Linked DNA regions of Homo sapiens. The protein of the gene in region 1 purifies or fractionates together with the protein of each later gene. This does not show direct contact. Each region holds a gene or a part of one and is shown in the gene's direction. Other genes may lie near its edges.

Region 1 (4,219 bases):
TTCTGGATCCCCATTCTGCACCCCCTGAGTGATGGGTTGTATTAATCCAGGTATTTATTGAACACAAATTATGTGCCCACGATGAGGGAAGAGCAAACAAAGCAGATACAGCACCACCCTCAGGGATTGGGGAGTGGCAGCAACCCTCCTGGGGAGAGGTCCCCAGAATCTGGATGTGTACTCGAGACTTTTATGATCAGGCCAGTGTTTGGGGAATGGTGGTTATAAAATGAGAGGCTGGGGCAGGGAGTGGGGATGTTCTGAGAACCTGTCCACACACTGACAGCCTCAATGGGTTCTGTGGCACCCCTGAGCCCTGGGATGGCAACTGCAAGAATTTACTATCCATGGTCACAGATCTTCAGGCCCTGTGAAGCATCCAGATCCCCGCTCTGAATAGGCCAACTGGGCCAGGACCGGGAGTCAGGAAGGTTTCCGCCTTTTTTTTTTTTTTTTTTTTTTTGAGATGGAGTCTTGCTCTGTCGCCCAGGCTCCAGGCTGGAGTGCAGTGGCACCATCTCGGTTCACTGAAATCTCCGCCTCCCGGGTTCAAGCGATTCTCCTGCCTCAGCCTCCCACATAGCTGGGATCACTGGCACGCACCACCATGCCCGGCTACTTTTGTATTTTCAGTAGAGACGAGGTTTCGCCATGTTGGCCAGGCTGGTCTCAAACTCCCGACCTCAGGTGATCCGCCTGCTTCGGCCTCCCAAAGTGCTGGGATTACAGGCGTGAGCCACCGCGCCCGGCCCCTGCTTTCTTAAAGAACACGCGGCAGCTGTGTGTTACACGCTATGGCTGAGGTCAAGTGTGAGGGCTGGAATTGCTGACTGCCATGTTCTGGGTCTACTGAAAATAGCTGCCTGGCCTGGGAGGCCCAGTTCAGTCCGGGTGTGGGTCCCGCTTCACCTCCAGAGCAGCGGCAGCCGGTAAGGGTAGAAGCGGCCTTTGGAGAGGGGTCTCTGCAGCGGCCTGGGGACAAGATGAGGGCTCCTTTGAGTCCTGGGGTGCAGGTTATAGTAGCTAAAGGGGAGGTCTGAGACAGTGGGGTCTGGCTCCAAGGTAAAGAAGGAGCAGCAACCAAAAGGCCTGATGCGCAGCGCACCCATCGCAAGCATGGGCAGTGCGTTTAAGACTGGGTGACTCACTTTTTCTCCTATAAAATGGGCGCACGCAGGCCCCAGCTCAGCGCCAGAAGGGGGAGCCCCGGCGCGCCGGCAGAAGACAAAGGAAAAAAGCGTGTTTGCAAACGGGGAAGCGGCGGCGTGCTGCCGCGAGGGGCGGGGCGGGGCCGGGGGAGGAGCCCGCCTGCCGCCTGCCAAGCCCAGTGGTCCTGGCCGTGCGCCGGAGGCAGCGGCGGCGTGGCGCAGCGGCGACAGTAAGTGCGGGCCGGCTCGGGCTCTTCCGGCTACGGTCCCGGCCGCCCCCAGACTCGCGCTCAGCGACCTCCCTCCCGGGCCCTGGGGGCGGCTGCGGGCTGCCAGGGGAGCCGCAGGACCCTACCCCATCCGTGGTCCCTTCCCCACCGTCCCTCCTCTCTCTCCTTGCTCTCTGCCACCCCTCTTTCTGGGTCTCTATCTTCTCTTCCCCAAATCCTCTCCCCTCCTCCTCCCTGAGACTGGACCTCACCGCCTGTATGGTGGGGGCCTGGTATGGACCCGTCGGCCCGAAGTATCCAGACGGTGGCTGATTCTCTCGGTCCCAGCTGCGGGGCCTGAGGCTGGGGCTGTTTACACCGCAAAGCCGGTTCTGCCGCGGCCAGTAGGCGGTGCCCTGCGCTTCCCAGTGCCTTCCCACAGGTTAGCCCTACCAGCTCCCCACCCCGGTTCACAGCCCAGGAGATCGAGGCACAGAGGGGCGAGCCACCTAGCCAGAGTCAGGAACCTCCTTGGAACCAGCACCCAGGCTTCCCAGCCCAGATGAGGTTTTGCCGCGGCCCCAGCAGTGCCTGCCTCCTTGTGTGGGGCTGTCTGTCTGTGCATGGCCGGGCTCCCGCAGGTGACCCAGGAGCACGTTCCAGGCCACAGCCAGCTTGTTTTGGGGAAGGTTGGGCACTTCCTTGCCTGCCTTTCTCTTTATTTTTTAATCCAGAAGCCAGCAGCTAGCTTTTATAAAGACTAATAAGACTTTGCTCACTCCAGTGCCCTGGCCTGTGACCCTGGTTAGAGAAAATTCCTGGCTCCTTCTTCAGAAGCTCAGTCAAGCCTTGACAAATAGACGCTAGGAACTGAGAAGGGGGCCCTAGCCAGGTGTGGTCCTGAGTGACAGGGCTGGTGGACCTTCTAGCCGCCCCCACAGGTAGCTGGAGCCTCTGGAAAGAACCACTTGCCGGTTCTCTCTTGTTCTATGTGGGTGGGTCATGATTATTTTTTACATTTTAAACACTAATTTTTAAAATGTAACAAGTGAGCTTGTTACATTTGTACCATTTTGTGCCAGACAAAATAGCATAGACTGGGTGGCTTAAACAAAATTTGTTTCTCATGGATCTGGAGGCTGGGAAGGGCAAGATCAAGGTGCTGGTTGATTTGGTTTCTGATGAGGGCTCTCTTCCTGGCTTGCAGACAGCCTCCTTCTTGCTGTGCCTTCACATGGCTTTTCCTCTATGAGTGGGTGCATGTGGAAAAAGCGATTTTCCACACAGTGAGCTTCCAGACAGTGAGCTTGTTAATGCTGGCCTCCATGCGAATCCAGGCTGGGGAGGGGCTCTGCTAACCAGGGGAGTTTAAAATAGACTTGCTGGCTGGATGCATTGCACTTGGGCATCCAGTGGCCCCCCACCTGCTGGCTCCAGGGTACATGCTACCCCAGCAGGGGAGAATGTCCTGGTCGTGCAGAGTCCGTTCATTCAGCAAACATTGACAAGGGTGCCTGCAGTGTGCCTGGGCCCCTCCCGACTCACTGGCTTCAAGGCTTGCAGGAAGGATGCCTGTACTTGGAACCAGCAGACACAGATTCCCATTCCCAGCCAGTCCTCCCCGGTGTGCTGAGGAGTCCAGCATGGGCCCCAGTCTGCTTGGCTGTGTAACTTCACTCTTGTCATCTACTAGTTATGTGACCCTGGGCAAGTTACTCAACCTTTCTGAGCCTCAGACCCCTCTGTGAAATGGGTCTTAGAGTAGTACCTAATATATTAGGCTGTTGTCAGCCTCAAGTGTGACCTCTGTTAGGCACAGACCTTGGCATTTGTGATCACTGGACTTAAGTTTAGCTATTGGGAGTTCTTTCTATTTGTGGGACATAGCAAGTGCCTTCCAGACCTCAGTTTTTCCATCTGAAAAAAGGGGGCAATGTTTTCTGCCCTGCCTAATTCCAAGGGATGCTCTGAGGTTCTCCTGAAATAGTGGATAAGGTTCTGCACCCATGTGAGGAGGTGTTCCCATCCCACCAGGGAATAAAGGCCCCAGTCTTCTTGGTACGATGCTTTGAGTTAGGCTTAGCCTCCTATAGAAACCAAGATGCATTTATTTATTAGTTTATTGGGTGGGGAAGAGGCTACTGCAGAAGGGACTCTGAAGTGTCCCATCCTCAGCATTTTGGAGACATTTCTCATTTATCAAGCTGCTGCCACATCCTAGGTGCTATGTAGAGCAAAGAAGCAGGCATGCTACCTTACAGCCAAATTCAGCAGCCAGCCAGCCAGCCATGCGACAGGCCCAGGATGCCAGGGAGATGCTGACATTTGTTCAACAGCTGCTTATAGGCCAGGCATTGCCAGCCAGTTGCAGTTGCATAACTATCATAAAAACAGCTTCTCTGGGTTTACATTTGGGGAAATTGAGGCACAGAAATGTGGTAACTTGCCCAAGGCCATGTAGGCAATAGTTGCTGGCAGCCTAGGCTCTTCCATTTATCTTAGGCGCTACCATAGATTGAAAGTGGCTGGCTCCTTGTAGGGTGTGATGAGCAGAGGTGGGACCCAGGCAGGAGCTGCAAACCCAGGCTTGGCCATTTACGTGGCCTATGGCCTTCAGTTCTTTGGACCTCTCTTTCCTCACAAATGAAATGGGAATGGACTGTCAGAGGCTACACACCAGCTTCTGGAGGCAGCCCTGGACACTACCAGTTTTTTAAACAATTATTACTTAATTTGAATTTTTTTAAATTTACACTTTTAATTTTGTTTTTGAACCGGTAATAAACTAGTCACATAGTTCAAAATTCAAGAGACACAAATAAGAATGCAGGGAAGTCCCCCTCCCCGCCCCCCACCATCCCA
Region 2 (4,438 bases), on another chromosome or scaffold:
ACACATAAGCTAATTCCCACAAAATTGAGCATATACTTTCAAGGGAGTCTAGACTAAGATTCAGTTTTTGCTTTTGCTATTTTAATTGAATGGATAACAGTCCCACTCATTAAAATAAGGAAAACAAGAGAAGGCAAGATCCCTGGTCTCAGGAAGCTTACAGTCTAGTAGCCAGGAGAAAACAGTAACAAGAAATCAACATACAGAAAAAAAAAAAGAATCAATATACACATAGTAGACAATAATCACAAGAATTGTGGGGAAGGGAGAGTTCTGGAACCGAACGTTAATTGCAGAATTTGAATATGCTGAATTGGAGAAGATTCTTAGAAACACCTGGTTGGGCCGGGCGCGGTGGTTCACGCCTGTAATCCCAGCAGTTTGGGAGGCTGAGGCAGGCGGATCACTTGAGGCCAGGAGTTTTGAGACCAGCCTGGCCAACGTGGTGAAACCCCGCCTCTACTGAAAATACAAAAATTAATCGGGCATGGTGGCGGGCGCCTGTAATCCCAGCTACTCAGGAGGCTGAGGCGAGAGAATCGCTTGAACCCGAGAGGCAGAGGTTACAGTGAGCCGACATTGCGGCACTGCACTCCAGCCTGAGCGACAGAGCAAGACTCCGTCTCAAAAAAAAAAAAAAAAAGAAAGAAAAGAAAAGAAAAGAAAAAGAAAAAGAAAAAGAAAAAGAAAAAAAGGGAATGCCTGCTTGTGTAGAGACAGCAGTTTAAAGGAGACAGGTGTGCTACGGAAGCCCCCAAAAGAATAGAGGGCAGACTGACAAAGGCCGGTTGATAGAGAGCCACCTGTTGGAGGCCAGAGAGGTTGTGTTTGGAACCCAGGCTCATGATGAGCCTAAGATAAAAATGGCATTGATCCATGCTGCTGCTAGAGGTCACTGACATGGTGCCATGGGGTCCCATGGTAGGTTGGGGGTCCGGGATGGGGGAAGCTGTCAAAACGCTGATGAACACAGTTTATGACGGACTCAGACGAGACCCAGGGAGGAAAGCTGCAAGCTGGCGCTGGGAGGTCGGCCTTGGTGTCTGCTGTTCATTGCCAGGGTCCGAAGTTGGCTCTGTGTTTGTTCAATAGGATGGAAAAAAAAAAACCAAAAACCGCGGGACAGCGCTGAGTGGAGGAGAACTACATTCAGTCAATGGGCATGAAAATGAATTTTAGCTGCTTTGTGCAAAAACCCTAGGTGTGCGGACGAAAGAGAGCCAGGCAGAAGGTTACAACAGGTCAGGAATAAATAACCACCAGGCGGAGGATCCAAGATTCTGTCCTTCCTTTTGTTGGATGAGGAGCGCCAGGCAAACGCGTCCACAAAGGCTTCGGAAGGAAGCGGCTCGCCCGCCCACACCCGGCTCCTGCCCCGGGTGACTATTAGGGGCCCCGGGGGGGTGGCAGAAGCCCGAGACCCAGGGGATCAACTCTCCCCGAAGGCCTAGCAGCGGGGACCCCAGAATAAGTCGGGGGCGGGCCCCGGCGCGGCAGGAGGGGGCCGGGCGGGCGGGTGAGCAGATCCCACCCCTTCCTGAAGGAAGCGCCCTACCCGCCGCTACTGCTGCCGCCGCCGCCACCGCAGCAGGTCACAGCCCCTCGAGGCGACAGCGGCCCCGCCGCACCAGAGCAGGTAGGCGCGGCGCCCCCTCCCCTGCCTGGGCCCGTCGCGCAGCCAGGGGGCGTCCGGCCCGGCCCCGTGCGCAGCCCGCAGGCGGAGACCGGGGACGGCGGGGGCTGCAGCGCGGCTGGGGCGGCTGGGTCCGCCCGGCTGCGGGGCCCTGCTCGGCTGCGGCCCCCTCCCATAGCGTCCCGGGCGCGGGGCCGCCCGCCCGAGCCCTCCGCGGGCGCACGCTCCCCGGCAAGTCCAGGAGTCGGTGCCGGCTCTGCCCCGCGACCTGCGAACGCCCGAGCCGGCGCGCCTCGGTCCCCGCCGCCGCAGTGCCGCCAGCCAGCCCGCCCGCTGCGGCCCCGGCCCCGGCCCCGGCCCCGTCCTTTGACAGGTGTCCCCACCCGCCGCCCCATCATCTCGTTATCGGGTGGACTCGGGTGAGAAGCGACCCCAAGTTTGACCTCCCGGTCCCTGTGCCATTCTCCCTGCACTTTGCGGTTAGCCAGGTCAGGCTGGCTCGGGAAGCAGGGGATCTGGGAAGGAGGCACTAACTTGCTTTGCCCTGTGTACCGCCCTCCACTCTAAATGCACAGTCTTCCTTCCTTTCCTGGGCGCACACTTGGGAAGAAATGGGATTTTTGGTTTTTCGGCGGGAGGCCGTGGTAGGTGGGTTACCTAGGCTCTTTGGTAATCTGCTGCAATAAAAAAGTGATTAGCTTTGGGTTCTGGAGAGAGTCCTTGAGTGGTTTTCCCCTCCTTAAATGAATCAAATGGAGTATGAGAGGGTTTTCCCATTTTAAATTCATGCTCCTTTTTTCTCTACTCATTCCTTTCCTCCACCCCTACCCCCACAGCACTTTATGATGTCCCACACATTTCACTGATCTTTTTGGTCAGGTTTATTCCGGCCAGACCGCCTTTCACGGTTGGGCCAGGATTGTGACCGCATGTGGGAACATAGCTCAGGTAGAATGGAAGTCCATCTTCCCGAGTGAACCCACTCCGATGTCCTACATGCGAGGTCCTGTTGGGGAACCAGATATACCAATGCCATGTTGAAAAACAAAACCAAACAGTTATTGGATCTAAAACAATAACAAAGCCTAAATGGCAGGATCAGTTTCTGCATCTTTCTCTGCTTGAACCAAAGACATTTTAATAGTGCAGGGCTATAACTCCATTCTGGGCAGCAGTTCATCGAAAGGATAGTTGAGTGTGGATTTATAAACTCCATGGTAGCAGTCATTAAACTGACCTACTTAAAGTTTCCTATTTCAAGGAAAAATTGTTAGGCCCATATATGTGACCGATCAAAGAATTTTAGTCTCAGCTCTCATGTATCAAATCCCAAACTTTTTCTTGTATGTGTTCTAGAGACTCCATGTTTCCAGGATTAACTATAGCTGTCATCTATTAATGAGCTAGAAATGTGAGTTTAATCTTCAAGGCATAAGCGTAGGAATTTTAATGGTGTGTCCTTTATACATTATTTAATAAATGTTTTGCAAGTCCCCCAAGTTGGAAGCTCACAAACTGGACATGGTAAATAAAAGGGTAAAGAAGTTTTGCTAACAATAATGACTAGTTGATAGATGTTATGACATTCACAAATATATTAAAGTATTTGAAAAACACTTTAATGCATGTTTATTATAATCTGCCATTAGCTGAATGCAATCTGTTTGGATTATTTAAATTGGCATTTAAGTCTTCAGAGCAATTGCTTAATTCATGCATTTCTTACAAATACCTTTTCCATGTTGCTTTGTGGGGGGATAATTTGCTCTATGGAGTAATTTTTTTTTTTGCGTGAACACAATAATGCGTTCTATTTAGCCTTTGTTGTAGAACTACCACAATCATGTTCACAATGACCTTGCAGGGGTTTTTGGGCTCACTTTATCTGCTTTGCAATTGTCAAGAGAGAAGGCCCTTTGCTTTACACTCTTGTCTGTCTTCCTGCTTTGTCTCGCCTGTGACCCACACCTCTTTAGTACAGTGGGTCAGATTAGCAGGGCAGCCTGGAGTCATGAGAGAGGAAAAGCTAGCTGGACCCCGCAATCTCAGCCATTTGGTTTCACTGCAATCTGGCCATTTGGGATCAGTTCAGTAACCAATTAAGCAAGACAAGCACTGACAAGATAATGTATTACTTCTCAGTCATCCCCTTTCACAGAAGAATCTGTAACACTTAGAATCAGCACTACGGTGTGATTAGGTTCTGGTAAGGGTCCAATGAGATGTGTGCTGAAGTTCCCAAAACATTATAGGGTCCAAGTGTTATTGAATCCAGGTCTAAGTTCATGAAAAGCGTAGGACTAGACACAGGTGTGTAATAAGTGTGTCCCTACTTTTTTTGTTTGTTTGTTTTTGAGGCGGAGTCTCACTCTCTCGCCCAGGCTGGAGTGCAGTGGCACAATCTCAGCTCACTGCAACCTCCGCCTCTTGGGTTCAAGCGATTCTCCTGCCTCAGTCTCCCAAGTAGCTGGGATTACAGGCGTCCACCAGCATGCCTGGCTAATTTTTTTTTTTTTTTGTATTTTTAGTAGAGACGGGGTTTTACCATGTTGATCAGGCTGGTCTTGAATTCTTGACCTCAATTGAGCCACCCGCCTCGGCCTCCCAAAGTGCTGGGAATACAGCCAGGAGCCACTGTGCCCAGCCCCTGTCACATGGGTCCGTGTGAAGAGAGTCCACCAACAGGCTTTGTGTGAGCAACAAGGCTGTTTATTTCACCTGGGTGCATGTGGGCTGAGTCCGAAAAAGGAGTCAGCAAAGGGTGGTGGGATTATCATTAGTTTTTGTAGGTTTTGGGATAGGCGG
Region 3 (3,640 bases), on another chromosome or scaffold:
ACCGGATTGTTATGCAAGAACTGCAAGATATGTAAGTCTTGCTCGTGTTTGAGTTGTTTGCTTGTGTTCAGAACTAAGGCTACTTGAAATGTGCATATTTACCATGCTAAATTTATAGCTCTAATATTTGATGACTAATATGTTAAAGGTATTATCTAAGTGAGAAAGAAAAAAGTCCATCTCTGCAAATGTTAGATACGGTACATACTTTGAATATCCAGAGTTTGTAATATGTTATATTTGGACAGGTTCCCTGAAGAATTTGACAAGACGTCATTTCACAAAGTGCGCCATTCTGAGGATATGCAGTTTGCCTTCTCTTATTTTTATTATCTCATGAGTGCAGTGCAGCCACTGAATATATCTCAAGTCTTTGATGAAGTTGATACAGATCAATCTGGTGTCTTGTCTGACAGAGAAATCCGAACACTGGCTACCAGAATTCACGAACTGCCGTTAAGTTTGCAGGTGTTGTATTGTCTTATTCTAAACTTTTTGATGTTTTAAATGAGAATTTAATTCTGGTCAGGCGCAGTGGCTCACACCTGTAATCCCAGCACTTTGGGATGCTGAGGCAGCTGAGCTCAGGAGTTCGAGACCAACCTGGGCAACACGGTGAAACCCCGTCTCTACTAAAAATACAAAAAATTAGCCGGATGTGGTGGCATGCGCCTGTCATTCCAGCTACTTGGGAGGCTGAGACAGGAGAAACGCTTCACCCTGGGAGGTGGAGGTTGCAGTGAGCCAAGATTGCGCCACTGCACTCCAGCCTGGGCAACAGAGTGAGACTCTGTCTCAAAAAAAAAAAAAAAAGAAAAGAAAATTTTAATTCTGACCATGTCTCTTTTTCCCCTACGTATTTTAATTTATTGCAAGTAAAAATAATTCTTAATATTTACTGTGGGTATTCATAGCTAGTCTGTTTTAGTGCTAGAATTATAACCAAATTTGGGGTTTGTATTTTATGAAATTACTTTTTGCAGGTTTTCAGTAGGGATTGATCTTGTATTGTCTGGAAAAGAGCCAGACCATACCTGCATATGAGATTCTTGTGGTATATTCATTCTAGGACTTCAGGTGTGGCTAGCTGGAGATCTCAGCTAGCCCCTCCTTCATGGCATCCTCTAGTCCCAGGAGTAGGAAACTCACTAATGGAGGTGCCCAGATGAATCTAGCTGCAGGGCATGATTTCTCCTGAGCCCTGGACCACCTTGTGTAAATGGGTATCTCAGAGGCCAGAATGTTCTTTGAGATGAAGATGAAATATTTTTGTTGGCATTGTCTCATTCTGCTCTTCTTAGAGTGCCTTTATCTTAAGAATCATATAGTCAGACTCTCTTTGAAGATAGCATTTAAACCATTTTTGGAAGCTTTCACTTAATTTTTATTTTTAAAACCACAGTCATTACTTACAATGCGCATAACAGATTTATCATCTTTTTCTTTGTTAGGATTTGACAGGTCTGGAACACATGCTAATAAATTGCTCAAAAATGCTTCCTGCTGATATCACGCAGCTAAATAATATTCCACCAACTCAGGAATCCTACTATGATCCCAACCTGGTAAGTGGAATGGGTTACTTTTATGTACAACAGAAAGTACATCCTTATCAAGTGTTACTTACAGCATTTCTGTATAGCACTTCAGAACTAGCAGCAGGCTCTATGGTTTTATATGTCTTTGTTGCAAAACAGTAGCACAGGTAATCCGAATCATTCATAGCTTGCTTTGGAATCTTACTGTTCACCCCATAGATGCGTAATTTGGATTTGTTGCTTATATTCCATAAGCGGATGTCCTGTTTACTAAGGGTGACAGAAAATAGCCCCAGAGTATTCTCATTGGCCAGAGAGAACAATCCTGAGGTTTAACCATCAAGGAAATATTCATCACATGGAATATCATCGTTCATCAAAGCTGAATTGCTTTAATGCTGGCACTTACTCCATTTTACCAGTAGGGGCAGTGGGTGATTAACACACGACTGCATTGGAATGTCATTTGGCTGAAATAATTGAAAGAGTATAGATTATAAGAGACATTTTAGTTTCAGAGAGGTTATAATGTGAAGAAAATCATAGAATTGATGAAATGAATATAATACAGCCATTAATCTGCTATTTTCTGTTAATTTTTTACTGATAAATGGAAAAATTCTTTTTTTTTTTTTTTAAGCTTTATTTTCAGGGCTCTTTTTCACAAAGTAATCTTTTTTTTTTTTTTTTTTTTGAGACGGAGTCTCGCTCTTTCACCCAGGCCGGAGTGCAGTGGCGCTATCTTGGCTCACTGCAAGCTCCGCCTTCCGGGTTCACGCCATTCTCCTGCCTCAGCCTCCTGAGTAGCTGGGACTACAGGCGCCCGCCACCACGCCCGGCTAATTTTTTGTATTTTTAGTAGAGACGGGGTTTCACCGTGTTAGCCAGGATGGTCTCAATCTCCTGACCTTGTGATACGCCTGCCTTAGCATCCCAAAGTGCCGGGATTACAGGCGTGAGCCACTGCACCCAGCGAAAAATTCTTATATAATAAAATTAGGTGGAGAAAATAATGGGTACTACCATATAGACAGTATGAGTTGAACTATAAAAATCCTCCAAGTACATATACAACACACATACCCCAAAAGACAACAGAAATGACAGTAGGTTAAATCACAGGTAGTTTTTAATATCCTTTTTGTACACTAGAGTTTTTCATATTTTCTACAATGAGTAGATTTTGCTTTCATAATCAGAATGAAGTGGTATTTTTAAAAAATTACGATCTTGCAAATCTTCAAGCCATGTATAAATAATGACTGCAGATAGGACACCTCCTCCCTCATGAGGAGACACAGTGTGACAAGTGGCAGCCATTGGTGAAAGAGGTCAGCATAGCAGCCATCAGAGCACATAGTATGAGTGTTGCCTATCACGTGTAGATTAGTTTAGCATATGGCATGGGTTAGTATATGGATATGTGCCACTTAAAAGCCAATTCTCTAAATGTGCTAAGACTTAACATTACCAAATTAATAAAGTTGAGATAAATAGAGGAGTAAGACCTGGTATCAGCCTTAAAGGAACTTGCTCTAGTGGGATTAGCAGATAGGAATCAGCAGGTCAAGAATGAGACTAGGGCTGGGCACGGTGGCACGTGCCTATAGTCTCAACACTTTGGGAGGCCAAGGTGGGCGGATCACCTGAGGTCAGGAATTCAAGACCAGCCTGGCCAACATGGTGAAACCCCTTCTATACTAAAAAATACAAAAATTGGCCGGGTGCGATGGCTCATGCCTTTAATCCCAGCACTTTGGGAGGCCAAGGCGGGCGGATCACTTGAGGTCAGGAGTTCGAGACCAGCCTAGCTAACATGGTGAAACCCTGTATCTACTAAAAATACAAAAATGAGTTGGGTGTGGTGGCGGGTTCCTGTAATCCCAGCTACTCGGGAAACTGAGACAGGAGAATCACTTGAACCCGAGAGGTGGAAGTTGCAGTAAGCTGAGATCGCGCCACTGCACTCCAGCCTGGGCGATAGAGTGAGACTCCGTCTCAAAAAAAAAAAAAAAAAAATGAGACTATGAGACTATTTGTGGGTCGGGAATTCACCAGACGCCTCACACAGAGCTGGTACGCAGTCAGGCTGATAACAGAAG

The links.
Region 2: the proteins of SLC29A3 (region 1) and TMEM150C fractionate together in Homo sapiens (co-fractionation; one large-scale study listed by BioGRID). This does not show direct contact.
Region 3: the proteins of SLC29A3 (region 1) and GNPTAB purify together in Homo sapiens (affinity purification with mass spectrometry; one large-scale study listed by BioGRID and IntAct). This does not show direct contact.

The regions. Positions count from the first base shown.
Region 1 is NC_000010.11:71,317,933-71,322,151, forward strand, and holds the start of SLC29A3 (equilibrative nucleoside transporter 3), read left to right. Parts: upstream 1-1,326; 5' UTR 1,327-1,377; coding exon 1,378-1,378; exon of another isoform or gene 1,379-1,799; intron 1,800-4,219. UniProt on the Homo sapiens protein: Uniporter that mediates the facilitative transport of nucleoside across lysosomal and mitochondrial membranes. Functions as a non-electrogenic Na(+)-independent transporter.
Region 2 is NC_000004.12:82,559,104-82,563,541, reverse strand, and holds the start of TMEM150C (transmembrane protein 150C), read left to right. Parts: upstream 1-1,553; 5' UTR 1,554-1,636; intron 1,637-4,438. UniProt on the Homo sapiens protein: Nonselective cationic channel with high permeability to Ca(2+). Component of a mechanosensitive cation channel, confers mechanically activated (MA) currents with slow inactivation kinetics. May contribute to proprioception.
Region 3 is NC_000012.12:101,757,955-101,761,594, reverse strand, and holds part of GNPTAB (N-acetylglucosamine-1-phosphotransferase subunits alpha/beta precursor), read left to right. Parts: coding exon 1-31; intron 32-248; coding exon 249-468; intron 469-1,451; coding exon 1,452-1,565; intron 1,566-3,640. UniProt on the Homo sapiens protein: Catalyzes the formation of mannose 6-phosphate (M6P) markers on high mannose type oligosaccharides in the Golgi apparatus.